4 linked regions of the Homo sapiens genome follow. The protein of the gene in region 2 purifies or fractionates together with the protein of the main gene of each other region. This does not show direct contact. Each region holds a gene or a part of one and is shown on either strand. Other genes may lie near its edges.

Region 1 (5,177 bases), on a different chromosome or scaffold from region 2:
GCCGAGCTCGGCCATTGCCCGCGGGCGGCCCGGGGACGAGCTGACGCGCCTCTTTAGTTCTCGAAACTGCTCGCGGGCGCTGGGGGCTCGGGCCGGCCATCTGCGTGGCGGGACGCGAGGCGCGCGCTGGCGGCTGCGCGCGAAGGGCAACGGGCGGCGGCGGCGGCTTCCCGGAACCGCGCGGGGCGGGCCCTGCGCCGGGGTCAGGGCCACAGCCTCAGGCGGCAGGGAGTTCTGAAAGCGTAGTTTTCAGTCGTTCCGTCCCAAAAGTCATCTTAATTCTTCCAAAAATACACGCATATAATTCTTTCTACTTAGTTATATTTTTAAAAGTTAAATACGTGGTTGTCTCTGAATTCCTAGTAAGATGAAAATTTCTTGGGTTCTCCAGGTAGGTGAAAGATACCTTAAGTGCTATTCCTGCAAAGTGACTCGTTGCTCTCACAGAATTTATAAACTATAAAATAAGACATTACTACTTTAATGAATATTAAGAGAGAGATTGCTTTATTCCTAAGCAAGAAGATCTTTTCCCTTGTAGGTATTACATTCCGGTGTGCATTCTGTAGATTAGAGTCATTATCGGCCGGGCGAGGTGGCTCACGCCTGTAATCCCAGCATTTAGGGAGGCCGAGGTGTGGGAGGATCGCTTGGGCCCCAGAGACCTACCCCGTCTCTATAAAAAAATATGTATTATTTTTTGAGACAGGGTCTCACTTTGTTGCCCAGGCTGGAGTGCAATGGTGTGATCTCGGCTCGCTGCCGAGATCCTCCTGTGCTCAACGGATCCTCCCACCTCAGCCGCCGAGTATCTGGGACCACGGGCACTCTCCAGCACGCCCGGCAAATTTTTGTATTTTTTGTAGAGATGGGGTCTCCTTATGTTGCCCAGATTGATTTTCAAACTTTTGTGCTCAAGCGATTCTCACGCCTCTGCCTCCCAAAGTGCTGGGATTACAGGCGTGAGCCATCGTGCCCGGCCACTTTTTTGTAAACTGCCAAGTTTTCTGTTAAGGGTAGCGTTATAAAGCTTTATTCAGGTAAAAAATGGAATTTATTTAAGGGAAAAGACTGAGTAAATAGAAAGTTACTTCTCCCACGTGGCCAGAACCTTGGAAAGCCTGGAGGCAAATGAGAGCCCGGTGGGGGTAGATGCCTGCAGGGGCTGCAGAAATGTGACAGGCCCTTTCCTTGGAGGTGACTTCTCTAATTCCCTCTCCCCCACTGAGCTCTGGTTCTCTGCTCTTCGGGAGAACCACATTAGTTGACTCTTACTAGGTCCTAGAAGTTTTACTCCATTTTCTAATTACATGCTCAGGACTACTCCAGAAGGGCTTGCTATTAGCCCCATGTTTCAGATGAGAAAATGGAGGTTGGGAGAAGTCATGTGTCCAGGGACACAATTGGGACTTGGGACCCAGTCCCAACTGGGTCCCAAGTTGGACCGGGACACCCCTCCCCTGCCAGGGCCCTTGCCCTGTCTTAGTTGCCCTGAGCTACGGTTCTTGTGGAGGGCAACAGGGTGGGCAGAGGGAGAACTGAGCTCAGCCAAGACCGCCCTGGCTTATTTTACAGCAAATCCCAGACCAATAAGGTCTTTATTAATAAATAAATCCGCAGTATTTCTAAGAACTTTTAAAACCTAACCATGATACTGCTGTCATGCCTAAAAATACATTCCAAAATATCAAGTATCCAGGGTTTAAGTGTTTCTGTATTAAATTTTTTTTTTTTTCCGAGACGGAATCTTGCTCTTGTCACCCAGGCTGGAGTGCAGTGGCACAATCTCAGCTCACTGCAAACTCCATCTCCCGGGTTAATGCCATTCTCCTGCCTCAGCCTCCCGAGTTGCTGGGACTACAGGCGGCCGCCACCATGCCCGGCTAATTTTTTGTATTTTTAGTAGAGGCGGGGTTTCATCATGTTAGCAGGGATGGTCTCGATCTCCTGACCTCGTGATCCGCCGGCCTCGGCCTCCCAAAGTGCTGGGATTACAGGCGTGAGCCACCGCGCCCGGCATGTATTAAATATTTTAAACAGCTGGTTGGTTTGAGTCAGGATCCAAAGTCACACCTTATATTTTGTAGATAACTTTTTAAATTCAGAGCAGCACTGTCCAATAGAAATATAATGTATGCTATAAATGTAATCTTATATTCTTTAGTGGTAAAAGGAAACATGATTCATTGTATTAATAATTTAACCTAATATATATCCACTACTATTTTGCATGTAATTTTAAAACACTTTTTCATTTCTCCATGATCTTGACTAAAATAATTAAAAACAAAATCCTGTGAACTTGTCAAAATCCAGTGTGAGTTTTACACTTACACATTTCAAGCGTGGTGAATGGATGCTGTGTAAGTGATCATCTAGAGGTTCCCCTTTCTTAAAAGGCTCCATCCCCCGTTATATTTGTCGGGCTGTCTTGCAGCATTCCTTCCCCACACTTCGCATTTTTCTGATTGTTTTTCCGTGGTGGTCTTTGAGTGTCTGTTCTTTATATTTCCTGTAAAGTGATAGTTACCTCTAGAGGTAGTTTTTGGTTTTGGTTTTATTTTTGTTTTTGAGACGGAGTTTTGGTTTTGTTGCCCAGGCTGGAGTGCAATGGTGTGATCTTGTCTCACTGCCTCCTGGGTTCAAGCAATTCTCTTGCCTCAGCCTCCTGAGTAACTGGGATTACAGGGGTATTTTTAGTAGAGACGGAGTATCAACTTGTTGGTCAGGCTGGTCTCAACCTCCTGACCTCAGGTGATCCACCCGCCTCAGCCTCCCAAAGTGCTGGGATTACTGGTGTGAGCCACCGCACCCAGTCTGGAGGTAGTTTTGATTCAGATGAGAGTTTTTGGAAAGAAAACTTACTTGAGGTGCTGTGCTCCAACCGGAGGCACATATTGGTTGGTATCTTCTCTTTTGTCATGTTACAGCAGCTATTAATGATCATTATGTAGATCCATTATTTTCTTAAATGGTTTTCAAATTAGTGATATTTTAATAATCGATTCCTTTTCATTTATTAGCAGGAATACTTTTTCATGTGATCGCTCTAAGATGTACTTTTGTTTTTGTTTTCCTTTTTTTTTTTTTTTATAGACGGATTCTCACTCTGTCACCCAGGCTGGAGTGCAGTGGCAGGATCCAGGCTCACTGCAGCCTCCGCCTCCTGGGTTCAGGCGATTCTCAGGCTCGTGAGCAGCTGGGATTACAGGTGTGCAGCACCACCACGCCCATCTAATAGTAGAGATGGTGGAGTGGCAGGGGGTGGGGGGTTTCACCATGTTGGCCAGGCTGGTCTCAAACTCCTGACCTCAAGTGATCCACCTGCCTTGGCCTCCCAAAGTGCTGGGATTACAGGCGTGAGTCACCCACCACGCCCAGCCCTCCACATTTTTTTTTTTCGAGAAAGGGTTTCACTTTGATGCCCACACTGGAGTGCCCTGGTGTGGACAGAGCTCACTGCAGCCTCAACCTCCTGGGCTCAGGCAATCCTGCCTCATCCCCCCAAGTAGCTGGGATTACAGGTGTGTGCCACATGCCCAGCTATTTTTTTTTGTATTTTTTGTAGAGAAGGGGTTTTGCCATGTCGCCCAGGGTGGTCTCCTGAGCTCAAGTGATCTGCCCACCTCGGCCTCCCAAAGTGCTGGGATTACAGGTGTGAGCCACTATATATGGCCTCAGTTCTTCCTTGACATAAATTCAGCTTAGCATTTCTCATAAAACATTAAAAAAGTACCTCTATACTTTGTCTCCATTGATACATCAGTATGAGAAATTGCAGTGATTGAGTTTGAAATGATCAACTACACTTGCATTCCTGAAATCCAACTTGGTCATAATATCGCTTTATATATTGCTGGATTAGGTTGACTGATACTTGGTTTGGACTTTTGCATCTGAGTTCTTGAGTGAAATTAGCCTGTGATACTTGATTAATTGTAAAACTCTTTTGGAAATGAAAAAATCAATTCCAAGTTCATTGTAGATGTAAGTGTAAAAATTTAGAGAAGAACATCAACGCTTTGTAAGTTCAGATAACTATATGGGCTGGGGCTAGGAAAAAGATCTCTTGAAAATGACACAGGCTGGGCGGGGTGGTTCACACCTTTAATCCCAGCAGGGCCAAGGCAGGCGGATTGCTTGAGGCCAGGAGTCCAAGACCAGCCTGGCCAATGTGGCGAAACCCCATCTCTACTAAAAATACAAAAATTTGCCAGGTGTGGTGGTGTGCATCTGTAATCCCAGGCTGAGGCAGGAGAATTGCTTGAACTCAGGAGGTGGAGGTTGCAGTGAACCGAGAGTGGAATGATGGTTTGAGCTCAGGAGTTCAAGATAAGCCTGGGCAAGATGGCAAGACCCTATCTTTTCAAAAACAGAATTTTTAATTAGCCAGGTATGATAGCGAACACTTGTAAAGACATAGAGGATGCAGTGAGTTGTGATTGCAGTACTGCATACCACCCTGAGCAAGAAAGCAAGACCCCGTTTAAAAAAAAAAAGCCATCATAATTAAGAAAAGGCATGACAGATTAAGACTCCTATTAGATTTATCCTAACGGTATGCCTCCTGTTAGACAAAATGCTTCACCTAATACAAATACAGATACTCTTACTTACTGTTATATCCCGATAAATCCATCATAAGTTATTTGATTAGAATAGTGCCATCTAATAGAATTATGATGTTTATGACAAATACATATCTTTTCTAATTTAAGTTGGTGTTAGATACCATATACGATCCTCTTAAAGTACATAGAATTCAGAAGTTAGTTTTCTTGTGATGTTTTTGTCTGGTTTGGTAACACGTTGTATTAGTATGCTAGGGCTGCCATGCAAAGTAATACAGACTAGTAACAAATTTTCTCACGGTTATGGAGGCTAGAAGTCTTAAGATGAGGGTGTTGATAGGGTTGGTTTCTTTTCAGGCAGGAGAAATAATGTGAATAGTAGGAATTCCAGAAGGAGAAAAAGACACAGATGGAGGCAGCAAGAGAAGCGATAAAGGATTAGAAGTGAATTTTCCTGGCTTAAGATCCCTGTAGTTCCCATTAGGATATTTTGAAAAGACACAGCACAGGCGTGTGTTGGTAAAACTCCTAAAGTATAGAGGAAACTGCTTTGGAAAAAGTATGTCCTCCAAATCTCTTATCTTCTCCCCCATTGTTTCTGTTTTG
Region 2 (5,177 bases):
AGCTTTAGCTCACAAAAGCAGGATATTGTAGGCAGAATTAGATCTCCTTTATACCTTTGACAGGTGCTGTTAGGCAGAGAGAAACCTGATTTCATCAAGGAAAACCTAGCATCGTCAAGTTGAATTCATATCAGATGTTTTTTTATCTTCAAGTTAATCATTCACTTTCTGTTACTACAGTAGAACATAAATTAGGTATAGTAGATAAAATGCAATTAGGAAATGCCGGTGGAAATTATGACCCAAGACAACATTTTTTCTTGCTCTAGTCTAGTCTAACTAGCCTGTTACCAACACCAGGGACCAAGAAGGTGCTGAATAAATGTAGTATTCTGAGTTGAAGATGGAAAGGGATCAGTATCAGCCTAAGCAGGAACGCAGCATACTGGGGCTACAAGCCTCTGATGTTGAAAGAACTCCTTATCCACAAGCTACTTCTATACCTATTCTAAGCAGGTCAGTTGAGCTTTCTGCATCTCTCTAGCTACATATAAACAAAAATAAAGTCTATTGAAATGATTTAGCATGAAAGGCAAGGATTATATATAATATTTTTCTAGTTTATTATAAGGTAGCATAAGAGGTTTGCAATAAATTAAAACAGTATAGAAGTGTATAAAAGAAAAAAATGAGCTTTACCCATTCTGCCCTTTTTCTAAATTCCCTTCCTGGTGATTTTCTACAAATTTAATGTGCACATGTATACACACGTATATATATTTTGTTTTCTACAAAATTGGGATCACAGTATTCTTACTGCTCTGTAATGGTTTTTTTTCCTACTTAAATATCTTGTTTTTTCTTTGTTTTGTTTTGTTTTTTAGAGACAGGATCTTGCTCTGTCACCCAGGCTAGAGTACAGTAGTGTCATCATAGCTCACTGCAGCCTCGAACTCCTGTCTGAAATGATTCTCCTGCCTCAACCTCCCAAGTATCTAAACTATAGGCATGTGCCACAATGTTTGGCAATAAAAAAATTTTTTTAGAGACAAGGTCTCATCCAGGATGGTCTTGAACTCACCACAAGCGACTCTCCAACCTTAGCCTCCCAAATTGCTGGGATTACAAGCATGAGTCACCATGCCTGGCCCATATCTTGTGTTTTTCAATGGTAGTATTGTAGTCATATCTCATTCATTTTAAAGCTGCATAGTATTCCATTGTGTGGGTCTGTAATAACTTATTTAACCATTTCCTGAATGGCCATTTAGGTTTTTATTTTACCCAGCATTGCATTGTTTTTCCCTGTAATATGTTTGCACCCTAGTTCAAGTTTGTCTATAGTGGAAAGTTCTAGCAGTGAAAGTAAATGGACTTGTAAAGTTGTATTTCAGTGCATCTTTACTTGTAGTAGACAACTGTCCTGAAGTCTTGAGGTTTCAGATAGTAACTAGTTATAATTTAGTAAACTTCTATTTAGATAATCCATGTGAATCATCCTATTTATATTCTCAACATATTTTTTACTCGAGGTCTTGGACAAAGTTAGGCATTAATCACCTTGGTGTTCTTGTTTTCTCTCTCTCTCTCTTCCTTCCTTCCTTCCTTTCTTCCTTCCTTCCTTCCTTCCTTCCTTCCTTCCTTCCTTCCTTCCTTTTTTTCTTTCTTTCTCTCTCTCTTTCTTTCTTTTCTTTCTTTTCTTTCTTTTTCTTTCTTTCTTGACACAGTCTCACTCTGTCACCCAGGCACAATCTTGCCTCACTGCAACCTCTGCCCCCAGGTTCAAGCAATTCTCGTGGCTTAGTCTCCTGAGTAGCTGGGATTACAGGCGTGTGCCTCCATGCTCAGCTAATTTTTTTGTATTTTTAGTAGAGGTGGGGTTTCACCATGATGCCCAGGCTGGTCTTGAAGTCCTGAATACAAGCGATCCACCGGCCTTGGCCTCCCAAAGTGTTGGGATTACAGGCATGAGCCACTGCACCCAGCCTAGGTAAAGTTTTTCATCCCTGCCCTATAGAGCCTATGCCCTACTCTGGGAACTAGAGCAAAAAATGTGTATGTTGAAGGCAGAAATATCAAAGAAAGAAGTGGGTGGAGGAAGTGGTGGCTTGTCCTGGGGTGCTTATTTCTCTCCTTTCCATCTCACTGATAAGCTCAGCTATTTCTCCTAAGTGACAGAAACCTAACTGAGTGTTGGATTAGTCTAGAAGTATATACAGTCATGTGTCACTTAACACAGGGAAATCTTCTGAGAAATACATCCTTAAGTGATTTCATCATAGTGTGAACATCATAGAGTGGTAGGCAAACCTAGATGGTATAGCCTACTATATACATGGTTTATATGGTCAATAGCCTATTGCTTCTAGGCTCCAAACCTGTACGGGAGGTTACTATGCTGAAGGCTGCAGGAAATAGTAACACAAAGGTAAATATCTGTGGTCTAAACATATCTAAACATACAAAAGATATAATAAAAATATGGTATTTTTATTATAAAATTATATAAAAACATACAAAAGATATAATAAAAATAAAAGATATAGTAAAAATATGGTATAAAATATAAAAAATGGTACACCTGTATAGAGCACTGTATAGGACACAGGAGCTTACGGGACTGGAAGTTGCTCTGGGTGAGTTAGTGAGGGAGTGATAAGTGAATGTGAAGGCCTAAGACATTATTGTTTACTATTGTAGAATTTATAAACACTGTACACACAGGCTAAACTAAATTTATAAAAAAATAAAGTAATTGCAGCTATGACATTACAGTGGCTACAGCACCACTGGATGATAAGAATGTTTAACTTCCACTTTAATCTTATGAGGCCACTGCCATACATGTGGTCTATCATTGACCAAAACATTGTTATGGGGTGTGTGACTGTGTTTCAGTTATTTTTCCTGCTGGAAGAAGAGGGCCCTCCTGGAAACAAAAGGAGAAAGGAGTAAGCTTCTCCTAACAGTATAACGTATGTTTTTGTTGCACATTATATATTTTGATAAATTAAATTCCATTTTAAAGTTAGGCAAGGCTTACAAGGAACTTATGGTGAATCTTTCCAATTTTTGCTTTATAAAACCCTCAGATTGCACACGAGAATTTCCAAAAGTTGTTACCATTTTTAGTTTACTAAATTATAACCTAAACTTTAAACATAGTTTTTAAAATTGTCTTATTTTGTACAAGCTCTATGGAAAACAGTATGGAGATTTCTCAAAGAATTAAAAATAGAATTGCCATTCAATTCAGCAAACCCACTACTGGGTGTTTACAAAGGAAAATAAATCACTATATGAAGAAGACACCTGCTCTAGTATGTTTATCACAGCACTATTCATAGTAGCAAGTTAAGAATCAACCTAAGTGTCCATCAGTGGATGATTGGATAAAGAAAATATGTTATATATACCATGGAATACTACTCAGCCATGAAAAAGAATGAAATCTTGTCTTTTGCAGGAACATGGATAGAACTGGAGGCCTTTATCCTAACTAAAATAATTCAGAAACAAGGTCAAATGGTGCATGTTCTCACTTATAAGTGGGAGCTAAAGAGTGGGTACACATGGACATACAGAGTAGAATAACAGACATTGGAGACTCTAAAAGGTGGGAGGGTAGAAGCAGGGGAGTGAGGGTTGAAAAATTACCTGTTGGGTACAGTGGCCACTATTCAGGTGATGGATACACTAAAAGCCCCATGTAACAAAACTACACTTGTCCCCCCTACATCTATAAAGATAAGAAATAAAATAAAGTGCCTTATTTTCATATGCAGTAGCTAGCTTATCTTATACAACTAAAATAGTTCAGGCCAAATGGAGAGCCTTTGTACTCTGTGCCTTTGTGAACTTTATTTATTCCACCTGTATATGCTGGACTGTGTGTTAGCCTAACAAATAGAGCAATTACAGGGTCCCTACCTCCCAGGGGATGACAGTGAGTGGAGCAGACTGTTAAATTAACAGGTAATTATGATACAGTGAAATGCTGTATTAGGGTGAAAACAGCCTATAACTGTATCACCTCACATAGAATTTAACACTGAAAAACCACTGCAATCCAGCCTGGGCAACACAGTGAGACCTCATCTTTAAAATATATATGTAAAAGAACCACTTAACAGTTCATAGGTAGTCTTTGCTTTTGCATGGCATTGTGGCATTGTAACAATGATCATGCAAGCTGAAACCATTCAAAGCAAAAATAGTCAATGGGAAAAAGTACAATTATTTCATGACCTTCAAAAATTTTTGTCAAAGTGGCACCCAAACGGGACTTTCAGGGACAAACAGAGACCTGAAGGGACCTAAAGAGGCCTGCAGGGACAAATAGAGATAAGTAGGGATAAATAGAAATAGAGGTAGAGTTAAATAGAGACAAATAGAGAGTTTTGGGCAAAAGTCATCTTAACTTGCAGGGCGTTACTGTAGCCCCAGGAGTTGTTGATTTTGATTGTGAAGAGGAAATTCCAGTAGTGGTAATGTCACAAGAACTTTGGGTTTTTGAACCAGGAGAATATATTGCACAACTATTGCTTGTTCCCTGTAAGTTGCACCCTTCTCCACGAAGGGAGAAGCGAGGGAATCAAGGATTTGAAAGTACAACTAGGAGAGAGATTTATCTATCACAACCCATAACATTTAATGGACTCACCTGTACAGTACAAATTGAAGGCTTAATGATTTTTTTTCTTTGCTATACTGTTGCACGAGAAGGATGAGCTTCAATTTGCTTTCCATGTGCCTTCTGTTAATCAGAGAGAGCCTGCCTCTCCTTATCAATGAGAAGTTTACCCCGTGGTAATTAACCAAAGAGGCAGAAGCTGAGTTACAGCTTGTGGAGCAGATGCTTTGGCAACGGCATGCCTCCTGGCCACAGCCACAAAAGCCTTTGCTTCTGTTTTGGTAGATTTACTGACGTGGGGATAAGGGTACGCTTGCGTTTTTGCAGGAGATGAACAAACTGTGTGGGTGCCCTCAAGGTGTGTGCGACCACAGAACGGGAGACTAGAGCGACCCATGGATCCCAACCATGGGCCCGGTTCCCCCAGTATGAGCTGAATGCGAAGACGGAATGAACCACCAAGGCTGCACATTTTGCAATTACCTGTCTCAATTAATTCAAAAACAAAAAGGGAGAGATGTTGCAGGCTGAAAGAGTGAGGGTCGTGATCAACTCAGTATACCGCTGGAGGGTATATGAGCAAACAGCAAACTGTTCTCATAAA
Region 3 (5,177 bases), on a different chromosome or scaffold from region 2:
TGTCTTTAATTCTAGCCTAGCATTCCACTTCTCTGATTCTCTTGGTAGGCAAATTACAATGAAATAAGGCTCCTTTGGCCGGGATTGTGTGAACTCTGGGTAGAGGGAGAACAGACCAGTGCCTTGGTTAAGGAACAGGAGCCCTTCTGTGCTCCCTTCACTCCTTACTGGCTCCCTGCTGTACTTCTGAGGAAAGTGAAAGCCCTTCCGCTTCCTATTTCTTATTGAAATATCTTGCACTTCAAGAAAAAGAGTTTGGTTCTTAATCCTTTCCTGAGATTCCTTATTTGATCTCCCGTTCCCAACTCTCAGTAAATTTCTGCCCCAGGCTCCTTGAGAATGGGTTGGATATTGAGGATGTTGAAAATTTAGTACTATATTCTTTTGACCAGGGGTTTCTGAGGGAGTCAGCAGAGTTTTGTCTGCTTTGGTGTGGCTAAGAGGGTCAGTTGAATATGGGCATCTCTTTCCCTTTCCTTGATCCCACACTGAATGAACCTGTGTGATTTCCCCACTTCTCTGCTCCTTGCAGACCCCTTGTCTGTGTCCCCTGCCCGCTGGGCTGAGGAATATTTGGAGCAATCAGAGGAGAAGCTGTGGCTGGGAGAACCTGAGGGAACAGCCACCGATCGCTGGTGAGTTCAGATACCTCTTTCCGAATCCCGTGAAAGGAGTATGGACAGTTTTCCCAGCCTCCTCCATCCACGTTCTCGAACCAACTTACTTTATTCTTTTTTTTTTTTTTTTTTATCATTCTTGGGTGTTTCTTGCAGAGGGGGATTTGGCAGGGTCATAGGACAATAGTGGAGGGAAGGTCAGCACATAAGCAAGTGAACAAAGGTCTCTGGTTTTCCTAGGCAGAGGACCCTGCGGCCTTCCGCAGTGTTTGTGTCCCTGGGTACTTGAGATTAGGGAGTGGTGATGACTCTTAAAGAGCATGCTGCCTTCAAGCATCTGTTTAACAAAGCACATCTTGCACCGCCCTTAATCCATTTAACCCTGAGTGAACACAGCACATGTTTCAGAGAGCACAGGGTTGGGGGTAAGGTCATAGATCAACAGGATCCCAAGGCAGAAGAATTTTTCTTAGTACAGAACAAAATGAAAAGTCTCCCATGTCTACTTCTTTCTACACAGACACAGCAACCATCGGATTTCTCAATCTTTTCCCCACCTTTCCCCCTTTTCTATTCCACAAAACCGCCATTGTCATCATGGCCCGTTCTCAATGAGCTATTGGGTACACCTCCCAGACGGGGTGGTGGCCAGGCAGAGGGGCTCCTCACTTCCCAGTAGGGGCGGCCGGGCAGAGGCGCCCCTCACCTTCTGGACGGGGCGGCTGGCCGGGCGGGGGGCTGACCCCCACCTCCCTCCCGGACGGGGCGGCTGGCCGGGCAGGGGGCTGACCCCCACCTCCCTCCCGGACGGGGCGGCTGGCCGGGCGGGGGGCTGACCCCCACCTCCCTCCTGGACGGGGCGGCTGGCCGGGCGGGGGGCTGACCCCCCGCCTCCCTCCCGGACGGGGCGGCTGGCCAGGCGGGGGGCTGACCCGCACCTCCCTCCCGGACGGGGCGGCTGGCCGGGCGGGGGGCTGACCCCCACCTCCCTCCCGGACGGGGTGGCTGCCGGGCGGAGACGCTCCTCACTTCCCAGACGGGGCGGCTGCCGGGCAGAGGGTCTCCTCACTTCTCAGACGGGGCGGCCGGGCAGAGACGCTCCTCACCTCCCAGACGGGGTCGCGGCCAGGCAGAGGCGCTCCTCACATCCCAGACGGGGCGGCGGGGCAGAGGCGCTCCTCACATCTCAGACGATGGGTGGTCGGGCAGAGACGCTCCTCACTTCCTCGATGGGATGGCGGCTGGGAAGAGGCGCTCCTCACTTCCTAGATGGGATGGCGGCCGGGCAGAGACGCTCCTCACTTTCCAGACTGGGCAGCCAGGCAGAGGGGCTCCTCACATCCCAGACGATGGGCGGCCAGGCAGAGACGCTCCTCACTTCCCAGATGGGGTGGCGGCCAGGCAGAGGCTGCAATCTCGGCACTTTGGGAGGCCAAGGCAGGCGGCTGGGAGGTGGAGGTTGTAGCGAGCCGAGATCACGCCACTGCACTCCAGCCTGGGCACCATTGAGCACTGAGTGAACGAGACTCCGTCTGCAATCCCGGCACCTCGGGAGGCCGAGGCTGGCGGATCACTCGCGGTTAGGAGCTGGAGACCAGCCCGGCCAACACAGCGAAACCCCGTCTCCACCAAAAAAATACGAAAACCAGTCAGGCATGGCGGCGCGTGCCTGCAATTGCAGGCACTCGGCAGGCTGAAGCAGGAGAATCAGGCAGGGAGGTTGCAGGGAGCCGAGATGGCAGCAGTACAGTCCAGCTTCGGCTCGGCATCAGAGGGAGACCGTGGAAAGAGAGGGGGAGAGAGACCGTAGGGAGAGGGAGAGGGAGAGGGAGAGGGCTTACTTTATTCTTTAAGATTTCCCCTTGGGTTATTACTCCTGTGAATTTATGGTTGAAATGTAGTCAAGGACACAGTGGTTGTGTGCCTGTACTCAGGAAGCTGAGGTGGGAGGATTGCTTGGGCCCAGGAGGTCAAGTCTAGCCCGAGGAACACAGTAAGACCTTGTCTTTAAAAAACCAAAAGCGCATGCATGTGTGCGTGCACACACACACACGCACACACATATATACACACATACACATATGTACACACGCATACATACACATACATGTGCACATACATGTATATACACACGTATACATATGTAAACATGTAGATACATGCGTACACATGTATACACACACATAGACATACATGTATACACACATACACATACACATGTATATACATACACACATACACGTATATATACATATCAGCTATATTTGGGAGGAAGGGAGTTTTCAGACTTTTAAAATATATGTATATAGGTAAATATATATATATTTTTCAAGAATCCTAACTATCCTATATGACGTTCATAACTTCATCTTAAAGTTCATAATTTTACCTTGTTCCCTTCTTAATTTTGAGCCTGCTACTATCCCATCTGTATGCAAAGATATGTTTGGGAAAGGGAGAGCTAGAAGGATGTAGCTAGTACTTTCACACTCCTGCCCAAATGTCCTTCTATAATGCAAATTGGAGTTTGTAGGTTCTCAACAGGAGAATGGAGTTCCCTCACAGGAACTGTCATTGTCATGGGCTAGGAGTGGGGAGTAGCATGGGGAGGGTGATGGCAGACTAATGTGTAAAATTAGTTCTTACCCGTTCCAGGTATGATGAATATCATCCTGAGGAGGATCTGCAGCACACGGCCAGTGACTTTGTGGCCAAAGTGGATGACCCCAAATTGGCTAATTCTGAGGTGAGCCACATCCCTCTGCTGCTTTGCCCAGCAGAGCTGGTTTTGGAAGGCAAGAATCTTGCTTTTCTTACCCCAGTTTAGTTTAAAGAGAAGGAGAAGAGATCTTAGGTCTCTTCGTTCCTGTCTATAGAACAGAGACTTAAGATCCTGCCTCTTCCTTCTAGTGTTCATTCCCTCATCTCCTTGCCTACTAACTCTTTTTTCTGATGCCTTTGCAAGTCTTTAGAGCCAGAAATCCCTTTCTTTTTGCTCTCTACCTCTTTTAGGGTCTTTAGCATATCTTGTCTGCAGCTAGAGATGGTCAGGGGAGGGGTGAGTACAGGGTCCTCTTGGGCATGGTTGAGAGTGCACACCTGGAAGTCCTTTCCCAAGTGGCCTGTGTGTGTCTCTGTGCCCCAGTTCCTGAAATTCGTGCGGCAGATTGGCGAAGGGCAGGTGTCCCTGGAGTCCGGTGCAGGGTCGGGCCGAGCTCAGGCAGAACAGTGGGCAGCAGAGTTTATACAGCAGCAGGTAGGACATTGTCACTTTCCAGTCCCACTTCAGAGCCAGCTGATGCCCCAGGCCATGGGTTCAGTGGTCAGTGGTCCCAGATGGGGAAGGATAAGACCAGCTTGTCTTGATAGCATCCAGGTCCCAAGTGGGTGGGAAAGAGATTCTGAGAATGATTTTCTCAGAAGTACCCAGGTTGGTGGTGGTTAGTGGGTATTTAGTGTGCGTCTGATGGATAGAAAGTTGGTGGTAGTGGTACTGACCATCCTTTTTTGTCGCAGGGTACATCAGATGCCTGGGTTGACCAGTTCACAAGACCAGTAAACACATCTGCCCTTGATATGGAGTTTGAACGAGCCAAGTCAGCTATAGAGGTGAGAGCAGATAGTGCAGGAGCAGACACCCCAAAAGAAAACACTCCTTGGAGTGAGTGGGTGTATGAACATCAAAGATGATGCAAATTGTATTTCATAGTGGACCTGGATCATCTGTGTCAGAGTTGCTTGGGGATGGGGTGGGTGCTGTTGAAAAATGCAGATTTCTGGGCCAGGCATGGTGGCTCATGCCTGTAATCTCAGCACTTTGGGAGCCCGAGGTGGGTGGATCACCTGAGGTTAGGAGTTCGAGACCAGTCTGAACAACATGGAGAAACCCCATGTCTCTACTAAAAATACAAAATTAGCGTGGTGTGTTGGCGCATGCCTGTAATCCCAGCTACTTGGGAGGCTGAGGCAGGAGAAATGTTTGAAACTGGGAGGTGGAGGTTGCAACGAGATGAGATCACGCCATTGCACTCTAGCCTGGGCAACGAGAGTGAAACTCTGTCTCAAACAAAAAACTAAACTAAACTATGCACTGCACTGCACTGCACTGCACTGCACTGCACTGCACTACATTACATTTCTGGCCATCACCCCAGACTACTAAATCAGTATCTGGGGATAGCATCTGGCCATTTGCATTTTAAAAAACTTATTCAGATGATTCTTAAACATATTGAAATTCAAGAACTGCTGCCTTAGAGAATCCCAGCAGAGCTGAGTGTGGGGTGGGGTGGTCATGATGGATCTCCTTTTTCTATCTGCTTTCCCTTCCTTACAGTCTGATGTCGATTTCTGGGACAAGTTGCAGGCAGAGTTGGAGGAGATGGCAAAACGGGATGCTGAGGCCCACCCCTGGCTTTCTGACTATGATGACCTTACGTCAGCTACCTATGATAAGGTGAGGTAAAAACTCTTAGTTTTTCAGGTTCCAGAACTTCCTTCTTTTTAACGTCTTTCCTTTAATCCTGAATTTGAAGGGTGCTTTTAAGTATTTTCTTGAGT
Region 4 (5,177 bases), on a different chromosome or scaffold from region 2:
GCCCTTTCATCTTCTGCAGTGCTGTGATGTAATGATAACGTTAACAATAGCACTACCTGATTATTAATTACTAGTGATATCTGATAATTATTGAATGCTTGCTTTTGCCAGGCAGTGGGCTAAGTGCTCTTTATCTATCTCCTGTAATTCTCACAGCCATCCTAGGACATAAGTAATATTACAGTCTCCGCTTTATACATGAGGAGACTAGTTGGGAGGTTAAGTGACTTTCCCAAGATCAAGAGAACTAAGACTGAAACCCAGGCTCACCCCTCTCAGAGCCTGCCTCTGTAAACAACTATGCAAACCTGTCTCTCCAAGACAATGTGAATGTAGGAACAGACTCACTTTGAGTGCTCTTCTATTTTTCTCTCCCCCAGCATTCCCAAATTCTCAGCCTTCAGCACACCCTTGCTACCCTTTCCGCTGTCTCCAAAGCACAGGCATTATTTAATTCTTTCATCATACACCATGAATGCTTTGGGCTTAACTGCAACATAGATAGTGTTTTCTTAGGAAGAAAACCTTTTTCCTGGCCTCATTATGTCTTCTCGCCTTGAAAATGTGGCACTTTCCCTTTTTCTGGTTTAGAAATGCTTTTGGTCTTGGGGCAACCGTCACTTGTCTCCATGTTCTGGAGGCTGGCTTGATATGGAAGAAGACAATGACTCCCCTTCCCAGGAAAAGGGCGTTTGTTGCCTACCGATGAAGGATGGCTGGAACAGGGTCTCTGGGCAGCGGAAACGTTCATTTCCGATGGTGATCACTTGCCCATCAGGCAACTCGTAACTCTTCTCAAGGGAGGATGAGGATGCGGCAGTGGCCATCTCATTTTCAAAGTCCAGAGCTACATAACACAGTTTCTCCTTGATGTCCCGGACAATCTCACGCTCAGCTGTCAACCAGATACAAACATTGTGGCAAACATTAGGGTCTGCACAGGTGGCAAAGATTCACCTGCCCTACTGCAGTCTCTCCCTCAAGACATGTGCCATCAAAAAATGTGTCAGTTCAATATTCTGCAATCCAAAATCCACAATGATAATGACGTAGTAGGGCCACCAGGGAACCACCTCTGTTCCTAGGACAGTGTCTCATGCATAGTAGGCCCTCAGCATGCATTGTCTGGGAAATGCATAACAAGAATAAAATGAGCTAGCTAGAGAAAGGCACACAGTAGCGGATCCTTTTGTACCATAACATTTTTTGGGGTGGGTGGGCAGGATAACTACTCTGTGTTATAATTATTTTATGACAGAAAGTTTGTTATATTGTATTTTCAGTTAACCAGGATATCTTATGCTGAATCAGCTCCTCAGGGGCCTCACAATTTTCAAAAAGTCTGAGATCCTGTTGCCTGGGCCAGTGGATAGCAGGTTAAACCTTTGGCACATTTCTCACCCTCCAGGAAAGAGGTGGTGCTGTCTCAGGACCAGGCCTAGTCCAGAAGGTTTCAGCGGTGCATACTGAACGAGATACGGAAGAAGTGGGCAGGGAGAGACCTTTCAGACTTCTGCTCTCTGAAGTTCTAGGCTATTAATTATATCTGAGGCTCTAGGAACCTTTTAGAGGCATCTTGGGATTCTTTGTAGGGAGCAGAGGAGGAATGCAATTATTCAACTTCATATTGCAAGTGGAGACTTTAACATTGGCAGGGTTCAAGTCTCAAGCCTCAAATTTGGAGCATAAAATAAGCCTCAGGCATGTTCAGAAACCTAAATGTTTGGACAATACCAAATTGCTAAGGGGAGGACAGGTAGCTGGAGCCACCAGCACTGAGGACATACAATGTTTCTGGCAATGCTGACACTTTCCTCTTGTGAAGGGAGGACTGGGTGCACCGGCTTAGAATCTGAATACACATATGTCACTGTGTTAGCTATTAATAAGTATCACTGTTAATAGCTAACAATTATTGAATGCTTACTCTATGTCAAGTATTCCACATGCGTTCTTCCATTTAATACTGATAACAATCATGTGATATAGGGTCTATTATTATCCCCATTTTACAAATAAAGAGACTATGGTTGGTTAACTTGTCCAAGCTCACAGAGCTACTGAGTAGCAGAGTTGGGACTCGAGTCCTATCACAATGTCTCCTGCCAATCACCACACCATGCCATCTTCAGTCTCTGCACAATCTTCTTCTATTTGCTAATGGAGGGGATTAAAAAAAGATCAATTATACAACACTGACTAATGCATAACACTGGGTGTCTATAACTGTTCTCCTCAAGGAAATAGTGTAATCATTTTGCAACTTCACACAGCAAAGAAAGATGTGCTTTGCTCTGTGCATTAGAGCCAGGCCTTGCCATTTGCAAAACTTCATCCCATCATCTCCTTGGATAGTGAGGATGGTCCTGGAAGTTACTGAGCAACACACTGCTCCCCTCTCCCCCTTATCTCCCACAGGCCTCACCAGTAGTAACGAAGGAATAGCCACGCTCAGTCAGGATCTTCATGAGGTAGTCAGTGAGATCTCGGCCAGCCAGATCCAGACGCATGATGGCATGGGGCAAGGCATAGCCCTCATAGATGGGGACATTGTGGGTGACACCATCTCCAGAGTCCAGCACGATGCCTGGGAGACAATTGGGCGTGATAAGTCACCATGGCAGCTGGCATGTGGTTACTTGCTGGACAAGTAGAGGGAAGCCTTGGGGGAGAGGGAATTTCCGAGCCTCTTATTTAAAAAGAGAAAACAGGGCATGTGATAGGAGAGGTGAGGTGGGACAGGGCTCGGGGAAGATGAAAAAAAGTAAAGAACAGGAAGAGGAAAACAGTAGAAAAAAGTTCTGCTAGAAATATGAGATCAAGGGCTTATTTTGAACACTAGAAGAAGATCTTTTAGGGCTGGGTTCAGCCGTGTCCATTCTAACTCAACTCCAGTCCGTCACCCCCACGTGTTAACGACCATTCAATCCCATCTCTGGCAGTGCGCTCCAACCAGCTTGCTGTCCCGCCCAGCCACCTACCAGTTGTGCGTCCAGAGGCATAGAGAGACAGCACCGCCTGGATAGCCACATACATGGCTGGGACATTGAAAGTCTCAAACATAATCTGCAAAGCAATCCAAAGAGCTGAGTTAGTGAAGGTGCCCATCTGACAAAGAATGGTCAGGAGAGCACACCTGGTTGATGGATGCAGAGGGGCCTGACCTGTTCTGGGCAGAGGAGGCCAAAGTAAGGAGGTTCAGAACAGCCCTGGTCACGTTAAAGAGGAGAAATGAAGGTGTGAATGGGGAGCCATCACATCAATGGCCTGACAGGGTGGGGAGGGGAAGAAACAGTGTGCACACAAGGTTTGGCCAGGGGAAAGGAAAGTCCAGCTTCTGGCTCTGGTCCTGGCTTTGACTAATAGTCACCAAACTAATAGTTGATTAATAGTGGCTTTATTCCAGGTCTCTTAACAGAGGAGGAGTTTGGACTAAATGAGATCTCCCATTTTTCCAGTGCAGACATCCTAGGGCTTGTTAACTATGTCAAAGCCAGAAGAAAAAGAGAAGACAACATCCAGGTTTTGATTTCCCTGGTATAAAGAAAGAGAACTTTTAAATCTGAAGCTCAGGCTGGCTAGGTTTAGCCCCATTTCTGTGATTTGTCTGAGGTTCTATTTAATCTATTCCACTTTTTTATGTAGTTACTGGGTCAATGCTAACCCTAGAATCTGAGGCCATTCTGGTTGCAGTGGGAGAGGCCCTGGTTCCTGGAAGACAGGACCAGCCCAATGGTAATAGAGGACCACATAGAATGTCAGTGCCCCAGTTGGTGCAGTCCAGGGACAAGATTAGAACCAAGCCCCTCCAGGTCACTTGTGAGAAGTTTGTGCATCAGGAGATGTCCGTGGGTCTTCATTTCTCCATCTGTAAGACCCTTCCTACTCTATTAACCAGAATGTCTGACATCATTTGCTAGCAAGCCATAATTTCCAACCATTTTTTTTTTTTTGCCTTCACACCACTGACAGGAACAATAATTCATCAGAAGCAACATCTCTTGCGACGTGCAGTGATTCCCAGGCCCACAGATGTTCCCCTGTAGAGAACAAGTGCTAGTGGGTTGGTGCAAGCACCAGGAGCTCTTCTGAGGAAAAGGCCTTGCAGTTATTTACATTTATGATTCTTCAATGCTGGAAGATCGTGGATCAATCCCAGGCTTTGCCAGTTCTAGCTGTGTGACCCTGGGAGAATTACTTAATGTATCTGAGCCTCAATTTCTTCATTTATGTAGTCAATATAATCATAGTTCCTGCTTCACATTGCTAGAACTTAAAGAGACAATGAATGTAAAATGCTGAGCCCAGTACTTGACCATAACAAGTATAGAATTGACACTAGACGTTGTTATTTAATAGCTCTTCCAAACTAGAAAACTCAGAGCTCTGTCTGGTGGGCTGGATGGGATTCTATTGTGAGGTCTTTAGCTTCAAACAAGTAATAATAATGACAATAGTAAGTACTATATTTTGGATGTTTATTAGGAACCATGATACACATCTGTCATTTCACCTCATTAATGTTCACATCAATCCTTGGAAAAATGATAGTATTAATATTACTCCCAACTTATAGACAAGGAAACTGAGGCTCTGAGAAATTAACGGAGTTCTTTAAGGTCACATAACTGATAAGTGGCAGATCCAGTTTTCAAACCTAGATATGTCTGACTCTGGAACCCAAATTCCTATTGTATGTGATGCTGCATTTTGAAGTGACTTCTCCTTAGACATTATAACTTAAACGTGGCCCCTTCTCAGTGAAATCTTTTAAATTTCCTATTGCTTTTGGAGGCAAAGGGCTGGTCCCTGCAGGAAGGATGCAAGTACTTTCAAGCTGTTCCTGTCCTTTGGGATCCCTGAGTTCACTGAAGGCTGTTAGTCTGTTGGTGGACTCCTAGCTCCGGCCTTCTCTCTGCTGTGCTGCATAGCCTCCTTCTAACAGAAGTTTCCCCAGACCCCACAGTGTTGTGTGCTGGGGTAGCATACTTACTTGAGTCATTTTCTCCCGGTTGGCCTTGGGGTTCAGGGGTGCCTCCGTGAGCAGGGTGGGATGCTCTTCAGGGGCAACACGAAGCTCATTGTAGAAAGAGTGGTGCCAGATCTAGTGAGTTGGGGGACAGAGGAGAAACACAATGATGTGCTGTCATGAGGTCCTGCATTTCCCAAAAAGGGAC

Evidence for each region.
Region 1: the proteins of PECR (region 2) and HNRNPF purify together in Homo sapiens (affinity purification with mass spectrometry; 2 studies listed by BioGRID and IntAct, with this or other methods). This does not show direct contact.
Region 3: the proteins of PECR (region 2) and PEX5 purify together in Homo sapiens (affinity purification with mass spectrometry; 3 studies listed by BioGRID, with this or other methods). This does not show direct contact.
Region 4: the proteins of PECR (region 2) and ACTA2 purify together in Homo sapiens (affinity purification with mass spectrometry, with the first as the bait; one large-scale study listed by BioGRID). This does not show direct contact.

What each region holds. Positions count from the first base shown.
Region 1 is NC_000010.11:43,402,217-43,407,393, reverse strand, and holds part of HNRNPF (heterogeneous nuclear ribonucleoprotein F), read left to right. Parts: intron 1-5,177.
Region 2 is NC_000002.12:216,070,913-216,076,089, reverse strand, and holds part of PECR (peroxisomal trans-2-enoyl-CoA reductase), read left to right. Parts: intron 1-5,177. UniProt on the Homo sapiens protein: Participates in chain elongation of fatty acids. Catalyzes the reduction of trans-2-enoyl-CoAs of varying chain lengths from 6:1 to 16:1, having maximum activity with 10:1 CoA. Has no 2,4-dienoyl-CoA reductase activity.
Region 3 is NC_000012.12:7,198,479-7,203,655, forward strand, and holds part of PEX5 (peroxisomal biogenesis factor 5), read left to right. Parts: intron 1-532; coding exon 533-635; intron 636-3,272; coding exon 3,273-3,363; intron 3,364-3,762; coding exon 3,763-3,873; intron 3,874-4,133; coding exon 4,134-4,226; intron 4,227-4,953; coding exon 4,954-5,073; intron 5,074-5,177.
Region 4 is NC_000010.11:88,938,804-88,943,980, forward strand, and holds part of ACTA2 (actin, aortic smooth muscle), read right to left. Parts: intron 5,105-5,177; coding exon 4,994-5,104; intron 3,067-4,993; coding exon 2,982-3,066; intron 2,588-2,981; coding exon 2,426-2,587; intron 1,172-2,425; exon of another isoform or gene 896-1,171; coding exon 704-895; exon of another isoform or gene 592-703; intron 1-591. UniProt on the Homo sapiens protein: Actins are highly conserved proteins that are involved in various types of cell motility and are ubiquitously expressed in all eukaryotic cells.